Homo sapiens: one gene and its partner. The protein of the gene in region 1 interacts with the protein of each later gene in a pairwise test. Each region holds a gene or a part of one and is shown in the gene's direction. Other genes may lie near its edges.

Region 1 (10,343 bases):
TAAACTAATACTTTCAAAATTTCTTTTATTCTATCCTTAACTTCCCCATCTTCCCAAAAGATTTTTTTTTTTAATTCAAATAGGAAACAAGTGAAACCAAACAGTTCTAATTTCACCCTGTCATTGACACTCTGGATAGACTCAAGAGTACTTTACTCCTCCAGCTGATAAAGCTTAGCATTTTACCCCTCAGGGACAGGTTTGAATTTGTACCCACACTCCCATCAGTTTTCACACCTAGCAATTCATCTTTAATGATATGGAGTTTAGGCACCATGATAGTTATGTAGGGGAAAATATTAATGAGCTTTTTCTATCACCTTAAAAATCTTGCTTTGGATGGACAACCAAAAAGACTCCACTCTTTTCGGTCCGTATGGTTAAGTCTTAGCTAAATGAAGTGGAAACTGTCCTGAATTAGGGCCTAGGTCCCAGGTATAGCTCTGTCACTCACCAGCTGTGTTACATGACACGAAGCTGTGTGTGCTAAAATCACACATGGCCTTTGTTGTCAGACAGAACTGAGTTCGAGTTCTCACCTCAACTATGTATTATCTATATGACCTGGGGCCACCCTCCATTTCTTCAGCTATAAAATGAGGATAATAATACCTCCTTAACAAGATCGGCATATGGGTATATAAAGCATTTAGCAGTGCCTGGTACATAACATGTGTTGAGTAAATGGTAGCTATGATTATAATAATCTATAAACTGTGAATACTATCTATTCTGCCTACTTCGCAGGAGTGCATATGAAATGAGGGAATTTATATGAAAGTACTTTGAAAAACTACAAAATTTACATACGAGAGGGCTATTTCTAGAGTGGTTTTGTTATTATAAGAGCCTGCTCACTTAAAAAAAAAATCTGTTAAGAATAGCAGACTTGGGTTCTTTTCAAAAACAAATAACCTTTTAAACACTACCACCGCCACCCCATGGGGTTGGATTTCTTACTGAGTAGTGAGGGAACATGTATACCTATCACCGTGTGTGCATCCATCTGTATGCAAATTCCTGCGCTGAATTGTTGCCCTGGGGAAAGGATCATATGATGCAATATGTTTCTTTTCTTCCTAGATCCATGAGGATTTTTGGTTAAAAGCAAGAGAAATAATTGGAGTAGCTAACACAAGAAGACAGTTTTAACAGAGATGGGAGACTCACAAAATAAAATTGGGTAGGGGACAGGGATGGCAGGACCAAACTTGAGAAACAGAAATCTAGGAAATTCACGAGGTTGGGCGGCAAGATTCATGACCAAGAGTCCAGGAAACTGCTGCCACCACCATTACTGTAAGCAAGCAGTCTTAGTATGTCCAATTTCTCTCTTCATCTTTGTCACTTTCGGGTGAGGGAAAGTCCCAGGAGTGAGCATCCAATAGGCTCAACTTAGACAACATCCTTTCTTCAAGGATTTTTGGAGTAGTTGGGGAGTGGCAAATTGTGCAAGAATCTGTCCCTGGGAATTGCCAGGTCACCATACAAAAAAAAAAAAAAATCCCCCAAAAGAAACATGGAGTACAAATAGAAATAAACAAGTCTTCTAGGAAGCCACCTTTTGTCAGCTCTCATTCTACTGATGAAGAAGGTTCAGAGAAGTTATTCAAGGACTTAGTTTCAGGTCTCCTGGTTCCTAATCCATGTTGACCCTCCTACACAAAACCCAGCAATTTATAAAATCATAAGCCATTTCTCCAGCTTTAAATGATGTCTAAGGTGGAGGAGATAGGAGTAAAAGGGACTGACTCTACAGAAAGTGATTTTCTGTTTTCAGGCCTTTTTGATTACATGAGATCAGTACATAAGAATAAATAATGCTAGAATGCAGCTGACCTCCAATGCATGATGGGAGAACCTCATTACTGCAAAACCCTTGGTGATATATATTGAGAAGTGGCTACAATACATTGAATTTTCAGTAGAAACCATTAAGCACTCCTGCATCTAATTGCCATTTTTTCTTATTCAGAGTGCAATAAAAAATAATTTTCCATGCAATAATTTATCTGGCTTTCATCTAAACCTCTATGCCATTCTGTTTCCTCTTTCCTTCCTTGCTTCAGACTGACAGCACTGAGGCCTTTTAGATTTACAGACCCAGACATGAATACACACCTTCCATGTTTCCCCAAGCAACATTCCTGTGCATATTTGAAAACCAGTAGTTAAGAAAAATTATGATGATGTTACAGCTCCAAAGGTTACAGTTGGGAGGAGTTTTGGAGGAGCTGTGCTCTAGCCTGAGGGAAACTGAGGCTTAGAAGATATATGTCAGGTAGATGGAGGTAGGGGCGGGCCAAATGCCATTAAAGACTATGCTGGGTTTTTCATTTGGGATTTCCTTGATCCTTTTATTTCCCATTATTGTTCTCATCCAATCTGGACAGACACTATGAGGGTTTCTTTAAAAGGTTGGAGGTATTGTCTAATCCAGAGGTGGAAATAGTCCCTAAGGGGATAAATCCAGCCCATACATGGGTTTGATCTTGTCCAACAGTCTTGGCCAATACAGTCTTTTAAAAAGTTTTAGTTAATTGGCTGGGTGCAGTGGCTCACGCCTGCAATCCCAGCACTTTGGGAGGCCAAGGCGGGCGGATCATGAGGTCAGGAGATCGAGACCCTCTTGGCTAACGCGGTGAAACCCCATCTGTACTAAAAATACAAAAAATTAGCTGGACGTGGTGGCGGGCGCCTGTAGTCCCAGCTACCTGGGAGGCTGAGGAAGGAGAATGGCGTGAACCCGGAAGGCAGAGCTTGCAGTGAGCCGAGATTGCACCACTGCAATCTCGACAATCCACTGCAATCCAGCCTGGGCGACAGAGCGAGACTCCGTCTCAGAAAAAAAAAAAAAAAAAGTTGTAGTTAATTACCAGCATTTAAAAAAACCAGAGATTTAACATAATCTGAATTTCTGGCCTCTTAATAAAAATCAGGGTCTGGTGTGGTGGCTCACGCCTATAATCCCAGCACTTTGGGAGGCCAAGGTGGGCAGATCACGAGGTTAGAAGTTCGAGACCAGTCTGGCCAACATGGTGAAACCCTGTCTCTACTAAAAATACACAAATTAGCCAGACGTGGTGGTGGGCGCCTGTAATTCCAGCTGCTTGGGAGGCAGGAGAATTGCTTGAACCAGGGAGGCGGAGGTTGCGGTGAGCTGAGATCGCACCACTGCACTCTAGCCTGGGTGACAGAGCAGGACTCAGTCTCGATAAAAAACAAACAAACAAAAAACAGAACATCTGGCAACTCTGGGTGGGTCTCCATTCACATATGGCAAAAATCAGTTGGAGCTGAGCAGTGACTGTCACCTTAGGCAGGTGTGCATACCTCAGTCTGTCACAAGCCCCATCCCTCCTTTCTATTATACCCTGCCAACCTCACTTAGTACATGACTACCCGGCCACGTCGGTATTAAAGTTTGTGATCCTTCAGCTAGTCTTATGCCCTCTTAGTTACTGAGGTTAGAGTCACTCCCTCTTAGTTACTGAGATCATGTACTAACGCTCATGCAGTAAGTGGAAGATGCTGGGTAAGAACCTTCCCGATCTTGGAAATAGTACCATTACTCCACAGTGGCTCAAGCTAAACACCTAGGAGATTTTCTTCTTTCATCCCTTTACGTCAACCCCTGTCATAGTCTATTTTGTGCCAATATAACAGAATATCACAGACTGGGTAATTTATAAGGAACAACAATTTATTTAGCTCATGGCTCTGGAGGCTGGGAAGTCCAAGATTGAGGGGCTGCATCTGGTAAGGGCCTTCATGCTGAGTCACCCCATGGCACAAGGCAGAACAAGAGAGCAGCAGAGGGGTGGGGAGAGGGCCACTCCTGGCATTAATGGAATCACCTCTTAAAGGTCCCACCTCTCAACACTGTTGCATTGGGGATTAAGTTTCCAAGATATGAACTTTGGGGAACATATTTAAACCATAGCATCCCCTAAATCCAGCCTAATCCATCATCAAGCCTTCCTGTGCTACTTTTGACACACATTGCAGGAGGTCCACCTTTTCCGTATCTTGCTGTCACCACCCTGGTCTTCATCACCATAATCTCTTGCCTGAATTGTTCCCTCCAGATTGATATGACAAAGCCCTGACCCTCACGGTGGCCTACAAGGTTCTGGGTGATGGTGATTCCACACTAGTCTACCTCTCTGGCTGTAACCCACTCTCCCCTTGCTCACCTCACTCAGCCACCCTGGGGGCCAGTTCCAGCTTCAGAACCATGCATCGGCCGACCCCTCTGTCAGCAATGCTCTTGCTTCAGCCCTGGAATCGTTTTTGTCCTCCAAGTATCCAATATCACAAGCGGCCCGGAGACCACCCTAGGTATAGCAGTCCTAGACCCCTTTCTTTTTCTTTTCTTTTTTTTGGAGACGGCATCTAGCTCTGTTGCCCAGGCTGGAGTGCAGTGGCTCTAACTCGGCTTACTGTAACTTCCACCTCCCGGGTCCAAGCAATTCTGCCTCAGCCTCCCGAGTAGCTAGGACTACAGGTGAGGGCCACCATGCCCAGCTAATTTTTGTATTTTTAGTAGAGACGGGGTTTTATCATCTTGGCCAGGCTGGTCTTGAACTCCCGACCTCGTGATTCACCTGCCTCGGCCTCCCAAAGTGCTGGGATTACAGGCGTGAGCCACAGGCACCCAGCCGACATTCTCTTGTTTTTTTCGTTTGTTGTATATAACCTACCCCCACCTCCACCCCATGCAAAGTCCACGAGGACGATAGACTTTGTCTTGTTCCCTGTTGCATCCTGGCCCTAGGGCCTAGCCCACAACCTGGGACATTTCCTGACAAGGGGCCCTGGTTTCTCTGAGGTGCCACCTGAGGTCCGGGAGGTCAGCTGACTTTCCCAAAGGTGGATTCCAAGGACACTGCATTCTTCGCACTCCCCGAGGGGCGTCTAGACACTCCTGGGACCCAGAATTATTAGCTAACTGGGCTCCTGAGTCCGGTGAGAGCTCAGAGTCTAGAAGCAACTTTCCCTGCCTGGAGAGGTGAACCCAGCAAGGCGTTGGGGAGAGGCGTGGGCGAGGGAGTGGGCGCGGGTGGGCGGGGCCGTCCGGGGGCCTCGTTGCCCGAGCCAATGGGGCGCCGCGGCGCGGGGAGGCCGGGCCGCCGGGCGGGGGCGCTCGCGCGCGTTGAGGGGCAGAGGCTGAGCTCCCGGGACCCGGAGCGGATCGACTGGCGGGCGCCGCGCCGAGGCACCACCGGGCGCCGAGTTCCTGGCGGCTCGCACGGTAAGCGGCGCGGCGCCGCAAAGTAGACTTTGTGGGGTTTCTGACAGCCGGGAGACCCCACCTCGAGCGGGGGCTGCTGGTGCGTTCTCGCGTCGGGCTGCGTCCCCTGGAGCTCCGGCTCTGTGTCCGCGGGATGCGGGCGCACGGAGGGGCAGGGAGGGAGGCAAGGAGCCGCGCACCACGGTGTCTCCCCAGGCTGCCGCTGCCGGGGCCCTGGGCCGGTCCCTGGGACAGACAGATCGGCGTGCGGGGGCCGTCTGCCGGGCCCGGGAGCCGGGGGCGCGCAAGACTGTGGATCCTAAGACTGCCTCCACCCAGCGCCCGGCCCGGGGAAGAGCTTGCGGGAAACCAGGAACCGCAGCGGCCGGACCTCTGCTCTGCGCCGGCTCCTAGGACCTGCCTTAGGTCCCCAGACCCCTCATGACCTGTTGCCTTGGGTTTGGGAGGTCAGGTTTGTCATGCCATTTCCGATTTCCAGTCATCCTGGGGGCAGGATGAAATTTCAGAGTGGTTTCCTGGCCAAGCTAGAAGCAGAGAATAGCTATGGATACAGCACCTCGTGTATCTATCCAGCACTTACTTGGCTTTTTCTGAGTGCCAGGAACTGTGCCAAGCCCTAGCAGCATGAAGAATGGCCTTTGGGGAGCTTCTGGGGCTAAGAGGGACAGTAGGAGGAGCAATTGCAGTGCAGGGTAGTGCGGAAGACTCGAGATGGAGAAGAGGACGGTGAGGAAGCCAGGAAGGTTTCAGAGAGGAGGTGAGCATTGACTGGAAGTCGGAGGTTTTGCCAGGCTGAAAAGTGTGTTGGGACTGTGAGTTGATAGGGAGCAGGAATTCCAGGTGGGTTTTCTTGTGTAAAGGTAAAGAAACTGAAAAGGTCCGGTGTCCTGACCTAGCACATCAGATAATTCTACAGCAGATAATGGAGTAGGACCGGGTCTTGCTGTAGGTAGGAAATGAGCTCTCGACATGGCAGGAAGCTAAAACCTGCACAGACCTTAAAGTGCAGCCTTAGAATATTTAGAATTTTATCCTGGAATGAAGGAGGGCCGTGGAAGAATTCTGATCAGTGATCAGGTCCCTCTGGCAGCTCTGGGGACAATGGATGGAGGCCGGAGCATCAGAAAGCTGGTAAGTTGTAGTTGTTTTCTGGTCCTTGGCTGCAAATACTCTTCCCTGCTTAAGGGAGCCCCCTCTGCCCGGGAGCCCTGCTCCCTGGCTTCTGGACATGGATTCAGGCAAAGAGATGCTGCCCGTGTAATGCTTGCTTCTGCAGCCTGCACATCATTTTGATATTGTTTCTGGAGCCTGTGACCTCAGTCTTGTCATCAGGCCTCTGAAGGGTGCCTCTGCTCTTCTTTTCTCATCTTCAAGCCCTCTGTGTGCCCTTCCCCTCTGCCTGGGCTCCCCTTTCTGTTTCACAGAGATCCAGTCTCAGCCATTGGAGGCAAGGCTGTGTGTAGATTGGTGTAGTAGAAAGAACAAGGGCTCGCTGGGAAATCAGACCAGAAAGTCACTTTAGCCATAGGCTTTGGGGACATTAGCAACCTTCATGAACCTTCTTTTTCTGATTTAAAAGGAAATCATTGTACTCACCTGTCATGGTTTGGGTTCCCTGGAAAAAGACTTGGCGCTTCTGAGATTTTTGTGCAGATAAGGGAAGCAGAACTGGGCAGAGGGAGATGTTGATCTATGGTGCAGTGCAAGAGAGGTCTCAATCCCTCCCATGAGACAAAGAGACGAGGCCTTTGAAGCTTAATGTTGATCAGCCAGTGGGTGCAGGCTGGTCCTAGGGAGGGAGCTAGGATGTCCCTTCAGCAGGACAGTTCCTGACTAGGGACTCACCTGGGAGCTGGGGTAACCAACACTCTGGCAGCTGGACATGGGGAAGTCATGAGTGTCTTGGTCTTGGAGGGGGAGTTGAGCATTTCCCCACGGTATCCACTACACTACCTCACAAATGAAGTAGTGCTTTGTACTGTGCCTGGTGCATAGTAGATATCTTAAAAGTATTCATTTCTCTCACCTTTAAGTTTCATGACTGCACCTGAAAATGAGTTTTGGAATTCGAGTTGAGTCAGCTTTTGTGAGGAGCTTTTAATAATAATAGCCACGAAGACTACTGCTTCCCTTTTTTGAGTGTCTATTATGTATATACATTCTCTTCTAGTTGTCCAATAATACTCCAACTTAGGTACTTTTATTCTCATTTTATAGTAAACCCAGTCTCTTCCAAAACCCAACCAAGTTGATGTTCTTTTGCCACAAAATAATAATTATAATAATAACAATCACTCACAACTCTATGATTTGTTACACTTTCCAAAGTGCTTTCATTGGTGGATTGATTGATTAATCATTCATTCATCCACTAATTAATCAATCAATGTGTATTGAGTGTCTCTTAAGGAGTAGGCGCTATCCTAGGTGATGGGGAGAAAGCTCAGTCTATTAGAGGAGATAGACATTAAATGCTTGGATTCATCAAAAGCAAGTGTTGAGGGGTGGAACATTGCATTGCATAGCCAGTATGTGATAGAGAATAACAGGCTCTTTGTCCAATTGACTCCTTGCCTTCAGTTTCAATATAACCTTCTTGGAAAGGCCTTCTGTACTCCCTCCCTTTTATTCTCCCTTCGTAACAGTCATTTATCTATTTTATTTACTTTCCTATTGTTGGTCCTCCCCTTTAGACTGCAGACTCCAGGGGATCATACATTGCTTCATCCCAAGAGCCTACCACAGGGTTTAGCACATATTTCTTAAATGAGTGAAATGAATGAAGGGTGGATGTGCTTAACAGTGTAGTCAGGGAAGGTCTCCCAAAGTAGTGATATTTACACTGAGATCTGGGGAATGAGAAAGATCCGGCAACGCCAAGATCAAGAGGCAGAGAGAACAGCTTATTCAAAGACCGCGAGGTGGAGGAATGGAGGCTATTGTGGTTGGAGCGCATAGTGGGCAAATTGTGTGGAGTGGCCCGAGATGAGTTTGAAGGCAGTGGAGTCTTGGAGGCCATGCTGAGCTTACATTTTTATCTAAAGTGCAACAAACGAATCATTGAAGGATTTTAAGCCTGATGTGATAGTGTATATTTGTGTGTTGTCTGTTATGCCTCTGGGAGGAGAACTCCTTGAAGAAAGGTGCTTAGTAAATAGTGCTTAAATGAATGGATGATCTGGTTTATGTTTTAAAAGGAGTCAATCTCAGCTTCCAGGTGAGAAGTGGAATAGAGAGAAGAAAGATCTTGTCACAGTTGGAAGCTCAGTGAGATATATATTGGTGTCTGGGCTAGAGGACAGCAATAGTGTTGGAGAAAAGTAAAAGGGTTTGAGCTCTATTTAGGAAGCAAAATGGACAGGACTTGCTGATACTTTAAATGCAGGGAATATGGGAAAAGGGTGGGGATGAAGGATGGTGGCCAGCCTTATGGTTTCAGATTGGTTGGCTACTGAAAGTCTGGCAGCTCCATCAGTAAGTGACTGAATAAACAAAATGTAGTATAACATACAATAGAATGTTACTCAGCCATAACAAGGAGTGAAGTACTAATACATGCTGCAATGTGGATGAACCTTAAAAATGCTATGTGAAAACGTGGTTTAAAAGCCAGACACAAAAGGTTACATAGTGTATGATTCCCTTTATGTGAAGCATCCAGAATAGGTCAATCCATAGAGACAGAAAACAGATTGGTGTTTGTGCTGATCTGAGGGGGAAGTGGGACTGGGGCTTGACTGCTTAATGGCTAAGTGGTTTCCTTTTGAGGTGATGAAAATGTTTTGGAACTAGATAGAGGCGACAGTTTGTACATCATCATGAGGATAGTAAATGCCACGCATTGTTAGTTTAAAATGGCTAGCTTTTAGTTATGTAAATTTCACCTAATTAAAAAAACAAACAAACAAAAGTTGGGTGGATGGGAGCACTATTCACATAACAGAGACTAGGCGAGGAGCAGGTTGTGCTTAGAGGATACAATTCAAATACCCTCTTGGAGATGCCCGTAAAACATCCACATAGAGACAGGAATTGGCTGTGAGTCTGGAGTCGAGGAGGGGAGTCTGGGCTGGAGATATAAATATGGCAGTTGTCAGCACTTAGATGTCAGCCAATAAAATGGATGAGTTCGAGTGTGAGAGAGAGAGGAGGAGAAAATCAGAGCTTTGGATCATTCTTTAATTTGATCTTTATAACTATTCATAGGAGATGCGATTGTCCTCATTTTTAGATAAGGACACCAACCCCCTCTCCCGTGTCCAAACGAACTTGCCCAAAATCAGTTCGTTCCTGTGAGTCTCCAGACTTCCAATCCTTTGTCTTTCCCATCTCAGTGTGATGCCATTTAGAACTTCGGCAAACACTTTCTCTCCCAAATCTTTTGGTCATGATTGAGTATTCACACGTGGCAGGCACTGTCCAGGTTTATGTTAGTGGAGAAAGTAGACATGGCTCTAATCTCATGGAGTTTATCCAGTAAACAGGAAACTGCAGCCCACAACTCCAGGAGACCTTAAGATCACAGAGCAGGGGCATCTATCCCTGGTTTGGGGGTTGGCGGGTGGTTGGGGAAGGCTTCCAAGAGATAGTGATGTTTAAGCTGAATTTGTAACAGAAGCAGAGGGAATTAGCCCAAGAAAGAGAATAATCCACCATTGTCTTCATTTCCCCGTTCCTCCCAGGTTCCTGGCATTCTCCAACTCATCAAGAGAGTCTATGTTTTCTGTAACTCTAGAGGCAATAAGTAAATAAAAGGCTTGGTTTGACTTCAAGCGGGAGCTTCAAAAGGGTAGCAAGGTCGGGTCCCAACAGCCTGTCTTTCAAAGCAAGGCTCCATCTCTTGCTCAACTGACTTATCCTTTTTTTTGAAACGGAGTCTCGCTCTGTTGTGCCCAGGCTGGAGTGCAATGGCGTGATCTTGGCTCACTGCAACCTCCGCCTCCTGGGTTCAAGTGATTCTCCTGCCTCAGCCTCCGGAGTAGCTGGAATTATAGGCACCCGCCACCGCACCCGGCTAATTTTTGTATTTTTAGTGGAAACGGGGTTTCACCATGTTGGTCAGGCTGGTCTCGAACTCCTGATCTCAGGT
Region 2 (10,511 bases), on another chromosome or scaffold:
ACTACTGTATGGTTGTGACTAGGTAGTTCTACATTTTCCTTGCACATTTATTGGTTGATGCCATTCCATTTGATCAAAATTAATATTCCTGAAGTTACACAGGAGCTTGGTTAATTTTAATTCATATGACGCACATTCACAGCCTTTAAAAATGAGTCTGAGGTTTTTTTCCTCCTCAATTGAATTTTTCTAGAATGAAGTTTTAAATAGCAGGTCCTTCATATTAAATCATTGAACTGTAATATTAACTGAAGAGTTATAAAGTGACTCTAAATCTTAGCATGCTAATAATGGCAATATATCAGTTTCCTAGCCTAAAAGTTAGTAGAGTAATTTGCACATTCCTTAGGGAGTTCTACTTCCCTTTTGCCTTTAAAAGGTTTTGATCATTGTTTTTATTTCAGAAACTTAAAAATGATGCCATGAAAATTTGTATTTAAGTCATTTAGAAAATATTCTTGTTATAAGGAATATTAGTTTTCATGTTACAGTTTTCTAAGTTACTCATGGCCTTTTATTGTTTTGCTTTTTTAACAGAAATTAAAATCTAAATCTTCAGGTAACACATCTGTCAGAGCTTCCATTGAAGGCCTTGGTAAAAGGTAAGTTGAGATTGCTTTGGTGAATTATACACACTATTGAGCAAACACTATGAGCATAGTCTAGTAGATTTTGTTACCATTTAAACAGCAGTGACATTGAACAACAAAGCATTGGTTGGCCTTCAGGAGAAAGACCAATAGCAATATCTTCAGTGTTCTTATGGTCTGTGACCCCCTTTGTGTAAAGGAAATTAAATGGGGGATTATTGCTATTGTAAATAATTTTCTGCCATTTAAAAAAAGTGTGAACAGTTTCTCAAAATTAATGTTCTGTTATATTCTTCAGTATTTACTTTGTCCCTTACATTATTTGGCAAACACATTTTTCTTTTACTCATTTTAATTCCTTGAGTGTTCCTGAATGTACAGGTTATATCCAATAAAGCAGTGATCCTACAATAAATATCTCTTCTTTGAAATGGTTGGCTTGCTAGGGAAAATAGACAATTTGATTACAAGAACATAAAGTCAATAAAACCAAAAATTTTTTTAACATGGCCAAATTAACTTCTCCTATTTTTTGTTATAACTTCATATTTTTGCATCTGTTGAACACATCTAGTTGCAGTCCGGTGTACCTTGGTGGAAGCTCTATTCCATGTGGGATTGGAACAAATATTTCATGGAGGTAGGTTGTCAGAAATGTATTATACTTTCTTACTAGGTTTTTTCCAAATGGATGCCCCATTGTTAAAATGTAGTTATCATCTTCACATCAATCTGTTTTATAAGGAGAGGTATTTTTATTAGCTAATCTAAGAATTCTTTGTTTTTTATTCTTGGGAGATAGCTATTGAAAGCTGTGATGTTAGGTACATATTATTCATTTTATGCCCTTTTCTAAGCCCCACTTGAAATGCCTGGATCACTCCAGTCCCAGCTTTGTTTCCACAGGACACAGGAGAGTGAACTTCCTTCCAGGCAGTGGAAGCAAAGTGGCCATGCAGATACATGATGCCTTACCCACACTGCCTTGGCCAATTAGCATGCAAAGCTACAGGTCTGCATTGCCCAAAACATTCTCAAGCGTAGTTGCTTGATTTTACATGTTTACATATTTCAAAAACAAAAACCTTATGTTCTTTGTCTCTTCCCTGCCCTTCCTGCCTCCACTTTCTCACTCAGTACCTCTTTCTGGGCAGTCTTATAGTCATGATGCCACCTACCCCAAACCCATATTAGCCCCATAGTCCTAGCACATTCCATTGGCATTTTCATAATGTGGGCAAACAGTTTGGCTTTAAGCAAACCCTACTCTCCTGCTGCTTTTGGTTCTATTTTTGGCAGAGGTCTACTTACCTAACTTACTTTATTAAAATACTTTTATCTAATTATTTCTAAAACACTTATTTTCTGTTAATTTTTTAAGAAAGAATGGCCTAAGTTATATGATTGCATGTTGACCACATTTCTGGAGGGCTAACTGTTGTATAGTCAAGTGTCACCAACAAGGATACATTCTGAGAAATATGTCATTAGTCATAAGTCATTATGACTTCCTCATGTACAAACATCATAGAGTGTACTTACACAAACCTAGATGATATAGCCTACTCCACACCTAGGCTAGGTGGTATACTAGCCTACTACATACTACTAGGCTATAAACCTGTGTAGCATGTAACCGCACTGAATACAGTAGGCAGTGGTAACACAATGGTAAATATTTGTGTATCTAAATATTAAAAAGGTACAGCAAAAATACATTGTAAAAGATTTTTCAAATGGTACAGCTGTATAGGGCACTTAGCATGGACAGAGCTTGCAGGACTGGAAGTTGCTCTGAGTGAGTGAATGAGTGGTGAGTGACTGTGAAAGCCTAGGATATTACACTAGTATAGACTTTATAAACACTGTAGCTTAGGCTACACTAAGTTTACTTTTAAATGTCTTTAATAATATTAACCTTAGCTTACTGAAACTTCATTTATAAATTTTTTTATTTTTTTAACTTTTGATTCTTTTTAATAACAATTTAAAATACATCGTACAGCTATACTAAAATATTTTCTTTCTTTGTATCCTTATTCTATAAGCTTTTTTCTATTGTTTCATTGTTTTTTACTTTTTTTTTTTTTTTTTTTTTGAGACAGAGTCTCGCTCTGTCGCCCAGGCTGGAGTGCAGTGGCGCAGTCTCGGCTCTCTGCAAGCTCCGCCTCCCAGGTTCACGCCATTCTCCTGCCTCAGCCTCCCGAGCAGCTGGGACTACAGGTGCCCGCCACCACGCCCGGCTAATTTTTTGTATTTTTAGTAGAGACGGGGTTTCACTATGTTATCCAGGATGGTCTCCATCTCCTGACCTCATGATCTGTTCTCCTCGGCCTCCCACGGTGCTGGGATTACAGGCGTGAGCCACTGCGCCCAGCTCTGTTTTTCACTTTTTAAACTTTTTTGTTAAAAATGAAGACACAACACTCACATTAGCCTGGGCCTATACAGGGTCTGGGTCATCCATATCACTGTCCTGCACTTCCACATCTTGCGCCACAGGAAGGTCTTTGTTGCGGGGGTACAACACGCATGGGGCTGTCATCTCATAGTAACAGTGTGCCTTCTTCTGAAATACCTCCCGAAGGACCTGCCTGAGGCTGTTTTACAGTTAACTTTTTTTAATAAGTAGAAGGAGTACATTCTCAAATAATGATTCAAAGTATAGCATAGTAAAAGTATGAACCAGTAACATAGTTTATTATCATTATCAAGTATTATGTACTATACATAACTGTATGCACTACTTTTATACAACTGGCAGCTCAGTAGGTTTGTTTACATCAGCGTCACCACAAACACATGAGTAAGCATTGTGCTATATAGGACAGCTATGATGTAACTAGGAATAGGAATTATTTAGCTCCGTTATAATTCTATAGGACCACTGTTGTATATGTGGTCCGTCATTGACCAAAACATCACTGGGGCAAATTAATTATATTGAATAATAGAAGTGGGAGTTAAAAAAAACATTGTTGGAGGGTTGTGGTGGTGCCAGCCTACATCGAAGGACAATGCCCAGAAGGTAGGGCTATAGGACAAAAGTGAAATTAGGAGTCTGGAGAAGCCTTATATGGGAACACCAGGCAGCCAACAGGCTAATATAAATCCACTGGAATGTTACCTACTGTTAGAGCTATAAAGAAGAATTAATAGTAATTGAATCACCATGTGTTGAGGACTCTCTGTACAAAAAAATTAGAGATACAAACTGCCTGTAGAGGTAGTGTTGTTGCTGTCAGTCCTAAATTGCCTGTCTCAACTCAGTTGGGACTTGTCTCCGTCATTTTCAGAGCCATGCCTCCTCTATTCCAGGCATCTCTCAAGTCACCCATGAGCCACAGCAGCAGTTTCCCAGTTATCATCCACTTACATCTTTTCTAATATCACCCACATATAGCATTCAAGATAATATCCCTAAAATACTATTCTGAGTGCCTCTCCTCTATTCAGAAGGGAAGTGAGAGTTGCCATTTGTCTCACATTAACTCTAAACTCACTATTTGCTTTACCAAATTGTTATCCTTGTTGTTCCTCTTCTCTCTTTAGTTCCTTCAGCTCCAATTAAAGCCTGGGTCAGATATTCCACTGCCACTGGGATGCTTGTCATTCTGTACTTTCCACTTATGTTTTTCTGTGTCTGAGTATATTTACATTTATTCCCTATCTGGAACAACACTCCCTTCTAATGCATGTCTCCTGCTGCCTTATCTGTTTAATTCACACACTGCAGATTGATTTTTCTATTTAAATTTTTTCGATTTTTTAAATCCATTGAATGCCCATGTCCTAAACCCTGTGCTAGCTTATCAATAAAAGGCAAAACACTGGCCAGTAAGGAACAAAGAAGCAAATGATTACTCCTGTGGCCTGAAATGGAAGGGCTCTGATGACAGAATGCCTGAGTTCAAAGCCTCACTCTGCCACTTACAAGCTCTGAAGCCTTAAGAAGGGATGTTATCTTCTAAAACCTGTTTCCTCACTCTTAAAAACTAAACATATTTCATGGAGATACTCTGAGGATTAAATGAAATAATACATGAAAACTATGCCTATGGTGCAAAAGACAGCTAGGTACTGCAGGCACACTGGGTTCTAATTAAGGTGTCTTTCTCATCCATTAGTCCTGCTTTCTTGTTACGTTATATCTCAGGGACAAGAATCTTTATTCTACTACTAGTTTTCCATTTTATCTCAGGAAATACATATAATTACAGGTGCCTTCTGTTTTTACAAATGATCTTTTAAAAAAATACATTCTGGTTTACTTCTAAAAAGTAAACATTTCATTAAGATTTTCTTATGTATGAAATATTTTGTACGTACTTTGATTTAGTTGTAGCACAGACAAAATCTATGTTAGATGGAATTTCAGTAAACCAAAGAACAGCCTGTTTTCATAGCTCGAGGCTCCTATCACATACTATTAGTCCAAGTGGGATGCCGAAATCAATTATACCTGATTTCTACCTCCTGCACAGCTGTAAGAAGAGATACCAGTTGCATATATATGCGCAGGTAAATGTTTGTATTCACAGATTTTTTATTAGTTGCCCCTTTCATGAAACAGAATTTGCACCCATAGAAAGACAAACACATGTGTTCATCTGCATATGCAAATTTTATGTGTGAAGTACTTTATACTGTCCAGAGCACTTTTTATATATGCATATTGACTTACCTGCTCCACAAGAGAAAAACCCAAGATGCTGATCAAGAATTTTTACCTCCATTTTATAAATGAAGAGATTGAGGTACTTGTGTTAAATTCATCAAACACATATTAACCACCTGATAGGTCCTAAGGATTAAATGAACAAATTTTGATGAACAAATAAATGGACACTTCCTGTCTTCAATGAGCTTTCAGTCTAGATGAGGAGATGGGCTTTAAATAGATTATTCCACAAATAAGTATTTATTTTCCATTTGATATGTGACATAAAGGGAACATATGGGATACTATAAGCATAGATAATGGACACTCTAACTAATATGAAGGGTCAGGGAATACTTCTCTGAGCAGATAATCAAACCACAATATGAAAAATGAGTAGGAGTTAGACAAAGAGAGGTGACCATTGGAGCCAGAGCACACGCATGTTTAGAAGCTCCCTGAGAAGGGGAGGAGCTGGGGGTGTTCCTCTGGTGGAAGGAACAGAGAGTATCTGGCCATGCTGGAGCATAATGAGTAGGGAAAGAATGGCCACTGACTGGGCTGGAGAGAGAGTGGAGGGACATTTGGCTTAGGGTCCTGTAATCCTTTTGAGGATTTTGGAAAAAGTTTGTCCTGTGTTCAATGGGCCAGATTTGTGTTTCTTAAAAAAGTCATGTTGGCTGCTGTGCAGAAAATGGCTTGGGAGTTGGAGGGGCAAGACAGGAAAGGACACAGGAAGACTAGTCAATGGGCAGTAGTTAGAGTGGTCCAGGAAAGAGAAGATGGGAGCTGTGACCTGCGTGGTAGCAATGGCTATAGGGAAAAGGTCAAATTTGAAATATTTAGAATATAGAATTGACAGAATTCAGTGATTGACTAAGGAGGGTAAGAAAGAAAGTTGTTAAGAATGACTCCCAAATAAGGTGCCTTGCTCAAGGTCATATCAGTTATTGCAAAGCAAGGATCCAGATTGGTTACTTGATTCCTAATCCATTATGCTTTCTATTATACCACTTAGCAGAAAGCCATGTAATATGGGAAGAATCTTAGCTGATGTTGCTGTTGGAACTGCTGTTATCTTCAAACTATCCAGACATCAAGTTTCTTTAGTCCCATTGTGCAGATCTGATAGGATTTAACAGAGAACCACAGTGTCTGGGCAGAAGATTGTATTGGGTTGGATTTGGGGCATTCCTGTCGTAAACATCTTTAAAATAGTGAATTCTACTTTTTAGCTGGACAAAAGAACAAAGCTCTTGGTGACATCTTATGTGTGATTCCCTCTACATTTTAGAGGGAAAGACCTGACAGTTTGTCTTTCACTGGAGTCATGACTTTATATTAGATATGCTTTTATGTACATAGTTATGAAAGAGAAATATATTTCAGCCCTGAAAAGAGTACTGATTTACATGGCCAGGGCATAAAGGAAATTGAATCTATCCTGCCTATTTGCGTTGTTTGATTTCTAGATACAGCTCTGGCTTGAGGTAATGCTGAATGACTTTAGATTTTAGAAAAAGATTTGTCTTTCACTTGTTGGTGGAAAAGGGGAGAGAATAGTAGTAGGAAGCATGGTGGCAGTAATAAGTACTACAGATAAAACGAAGGCATTTTCAAGCCAATCGAATTTTACTCTCAATTATTTTTTAAACAACTTGCAAGACTGGATTATTCCATAGACTGGTACTAATTATGATCTAATAGAGTAAATCGTAGCAGTGGAATGATTTCTTAGCTGCAAGTTAGTTTTATGTTTCTCAAAGGACAGTGTTTGTAGGAAAATGTGGTGGTGTGAATAGATTTGAATAAACTACTAAATTTTAAATTAAATTAAAAAGCTGTATTTAGCATTATGGTTGAGATTTTACACATACAAAATGTCAGGAAATTCTAAATTATAGTTCCCACAACAGCAATAATTCAGCCAAATTGCACATATGTATTAAGGCATTAAAGTTAACACTCTGTGCAATCATGTAATAAACTATATATGCATAAGAAAGCAGGTCATAGTAGCTTTGGGAACTATCAATTTGCATTTCCTGACTTGTACATTCGAAGTCTGAGTTCAAATGTGTACAAATGTAGTTGTTGAATTTCCAAATGTAGAAATGCAACTTCATAAATTGCTAACAGTTTGAAAGAAAATATGGACTTGCCTATGAAACTTGTATAGGTTTTAAATGTTTCATTATTATTATGGTTAATAGTATTTTTAGAAATACAAAGCATTTATTCTCAAAGAAATTTTCAGGCCAAAAGTATTTGCATTTTGAAATTAGCGTATCTGAACTTTGAAGGGAAATAAATGAAAAAAATCTAATGATGAGTTTATTTTTTCATTACAGAAGTATTATGTGCTTAATGAAAGAATAAAAACAAAATTGAAACATGTATAAAGAAAAAGATAATAATCTCCCTTCCTTCCCTTCAACCACTCCTGATGCAACCAGGGTTACTGTGTAGTATATAACTTTCTACATTTTGCTCCATGTTCTTTTTTTTTTGAGACAGAGTCTCGCTTTGTCGCCCAGGCTGGAGTGCAGTGGCGCGATCTCCCCTCACTGCAATCTCCGCCTCCCGGGTTCACGCCATTCTCCTGCCTCAGCCTCCTGAGTAGCTGGGACTACAGGCGCCCGCCACCATGCCCAGCTAATTTTTTTGTATTTTTAGTAGAGATGGGGTTTCACTGTGTTAGCCAGGATGGTCTCGATCTCCTGACCTCGTGATCCGCCCGCCTCAGCCTCCCAAAGGGCTGGGATTACAGGCGTGAGCCACCGCGCCCGGCCATTTTGCTCCATGTTCTTATAAACTTCTAGCCACCTATATAGGAATTTTTTGTGGGGGTCGTTTTTACAAAAATAGGATCATGCTATATATGTTAGTGTGCACCTTGCTTCAGATATCCCTCCAGGTTAGTATATAGTCTAGTTATCATGAGCATTGTTTGTTTCTTCTCTCACTGCAATCAAAGCTCTATGAAGACAGAATCTCATTAGCACATACCAGACTCTCAATAAATATTTTTTGAGTGAATGAATGCATTATGCCAAGTTGTGAGGAAGCAAACAAATACAATCTTTTCCCAGCGCTTAAGCAGCTTATCTGAAAAACAGATTCATTTCAATGTCATGTGACATATTCTTCGGTAGAGATATTCCTGAAAATTTCAGTAGGAAGGGGAGCATTTAAAGAAGTTAGCTTATATGACGATCTCCCTCAGACGTAATTTGAAAACCATGGAATTAAAAGATCTACAAATCTATTTTCTTTCATATCTATATAATATATGTGTAAGTTCAGTGTACAAGATCATAGTAAAATAGGTAGGTTTGTGCAAAAATTTAACCTTAAGGTTTAGACCGTAAATAATGCTTTAGTATAAAGATTTATAATCAGATTAATCTGTACTTTTCTGTTGTTTATTCAGTAATCTGTAATATGTGGTGTATCCTATAAATAAATCACCATGTTTTCATTGGTATTTAAAGATACCAATAATCTTTAATATACAATTTTTTTTCTCTGAACAGAGCATGTGACCATCTGCGTTGTATAGCCTGTGATTTCTTGGTAGTCAGCTATGATGACTATATGTGGGACAAATCGTGTGATTATCTGTTTTTCAGGTATGTTGCTAAAGAACTTCACTCTGAAAAAAGTACCAAGTAGTTTATATTTCCTATTTTGATATATTCTCTCTGGGTGGATTCAGCCAGATCTTGTGGGCTTCACCTCTTCAGTATAGTCATGTGCTGCGTTATGATGCTTCAGTCAACGATGGACTGCATATATATATATACATGGTGGTTCCATAAGATTATGACGGAGTTGAAAAATTCCTATCACCTAGTGACATCATAGCCTTTGTAATATTATACTGCAATGCATTGCACATGTTTGTGGTGATGCTGGTATAAACAGTAACATGCTGTAGAGGTTTGTAGCCTTGGAACAGTAGCCTATACCATATAGCCTAGGTGTGTGGTAGGCTATACCATCTAGGTTTGTATAAATTCACTCTTTGATATTCCCACAATGATGGAATTGCCTAACAAAGCATAAGCAATGCATGACTGTGTTTCTGTCATCCATCTCCTTCTCTCCATCTGCCTGCTGTCAGCCTAGATAAGGACATGTTACTTCTGGACAAGAATACAGAAGTAACCTCCTCACTGGTTTTTCTGGCTACAATCTCTTCTCTCAGACCATCCTTCCCTTGTTCAGAATTAAAGCATAGCTCAGAGTATACCGTCCTCCTGCTCAACACCCTTCCACTTACAGAATAATGTCCAAATTCCTTAGCATGGCATTCATGACCCTCCATAATCCAGCTCCCATCCATCCATCATCCAGCTTTGTCTTCCCACAATGTATATTTCACCTTTGCAAGATTTTAGCTACATCAGAGTACTCAAGGCTCCCATTCCCTCTGACTTTGTACAACCTCTTTACCTCTTGGGATGCCTTCCCACCATTTTATCTACCTAAACCCTACCTGTCCTTCAGAGTATAATTCATCACATGTCTTCCATGATTCTTTCACCACTCTCTCAACTGGAAGAAAACTCTTCCCTTCCTGTGTATTCACGGTGCTTTGGACCTATTATATACTGTAATATAAAACTGAAGCTCTTAGGTTGGTGTATGACTACCTCCCTCCTTGTGGCTGAGATAATGTCTTGCTCATATTTATATAATTTGTACATTCTTATACACTTACAGAATACCTACTATCTTTAAGGTGTTACAAGTTATAAAAATATATTTGAACTTTACATTGACATTTTCAAATAAAAATTTAAAGCTAAAAATTAATACAGTGTAATATTGCAGCACTTTTCAATAGCATAAAGAAAAGGGTAAGAGACTTTCCCCTACGCCTTTTTTGGCAGCCATTCTTGGGTAAATCTATGAGTATACCCTAATTTAATAGTTTTTAAACTTTTTCACATCAAGAACCACTTTGCAAATCTTATGAAAGCTTTGAATGCCCCTCATACACATACAATTCAAATATAAAAATACATGGAAAAATTATAACTTGAAAAATTTTACAGTTTCCAACCCAAATAAAGCCTAATGTACTCCCAAAATCTGAGGTTAGGAACCCATACTTTTAGGCTTAGCCCACTTTTTACCCCATAAGTGGAAAAGTTGGCTTTTAATTACAGGTTGACTTTCCCTTTTCTGACTTTTCTAAACCCTCTGCTATTTACTGTCTACTAGTTAATCTAATAAGTGGTTAATAATCCCCA

Evidence for each region.
Region 2: the proteins of SYN3 (region 1) and CFAP418 interact in a two-hybrid assay, tested with the Homo sapiens proteins (one study listed by IntAct).

What each region holds. Positions count from the first base shown.
Region 1 is NC_000022.11:33,053,203-33,063,545, reverse strand, and holds the start of SYN3 (synapsin-3), read left to right. Parts: upstream 1-5,164; 5' UTR 5,165-5,254; exon of another isoform or gene 5,255-6,385; intron 6,386-10,343. UniProt on the Homo sapiens protein: May be involved in the regulation of neurotransmitter release and synaptogenesis.
Region 2 is NC_000008.11:95,250,559-95,261,069, reverse strand, and holds part of CFAP418 (cilia- and flagella-associated protein 418), read left to right. Parts: intron 1-537; coding exon 538-602; intron 603-1,164; coding exon 1,165-1,230; intron 1,231-8,786; coding exon 8,787-8,882; intron 8,883-10,511. UniProt on the Homo sapiens protein: May be involved in photoreceptor outer segment disk morphogenesis.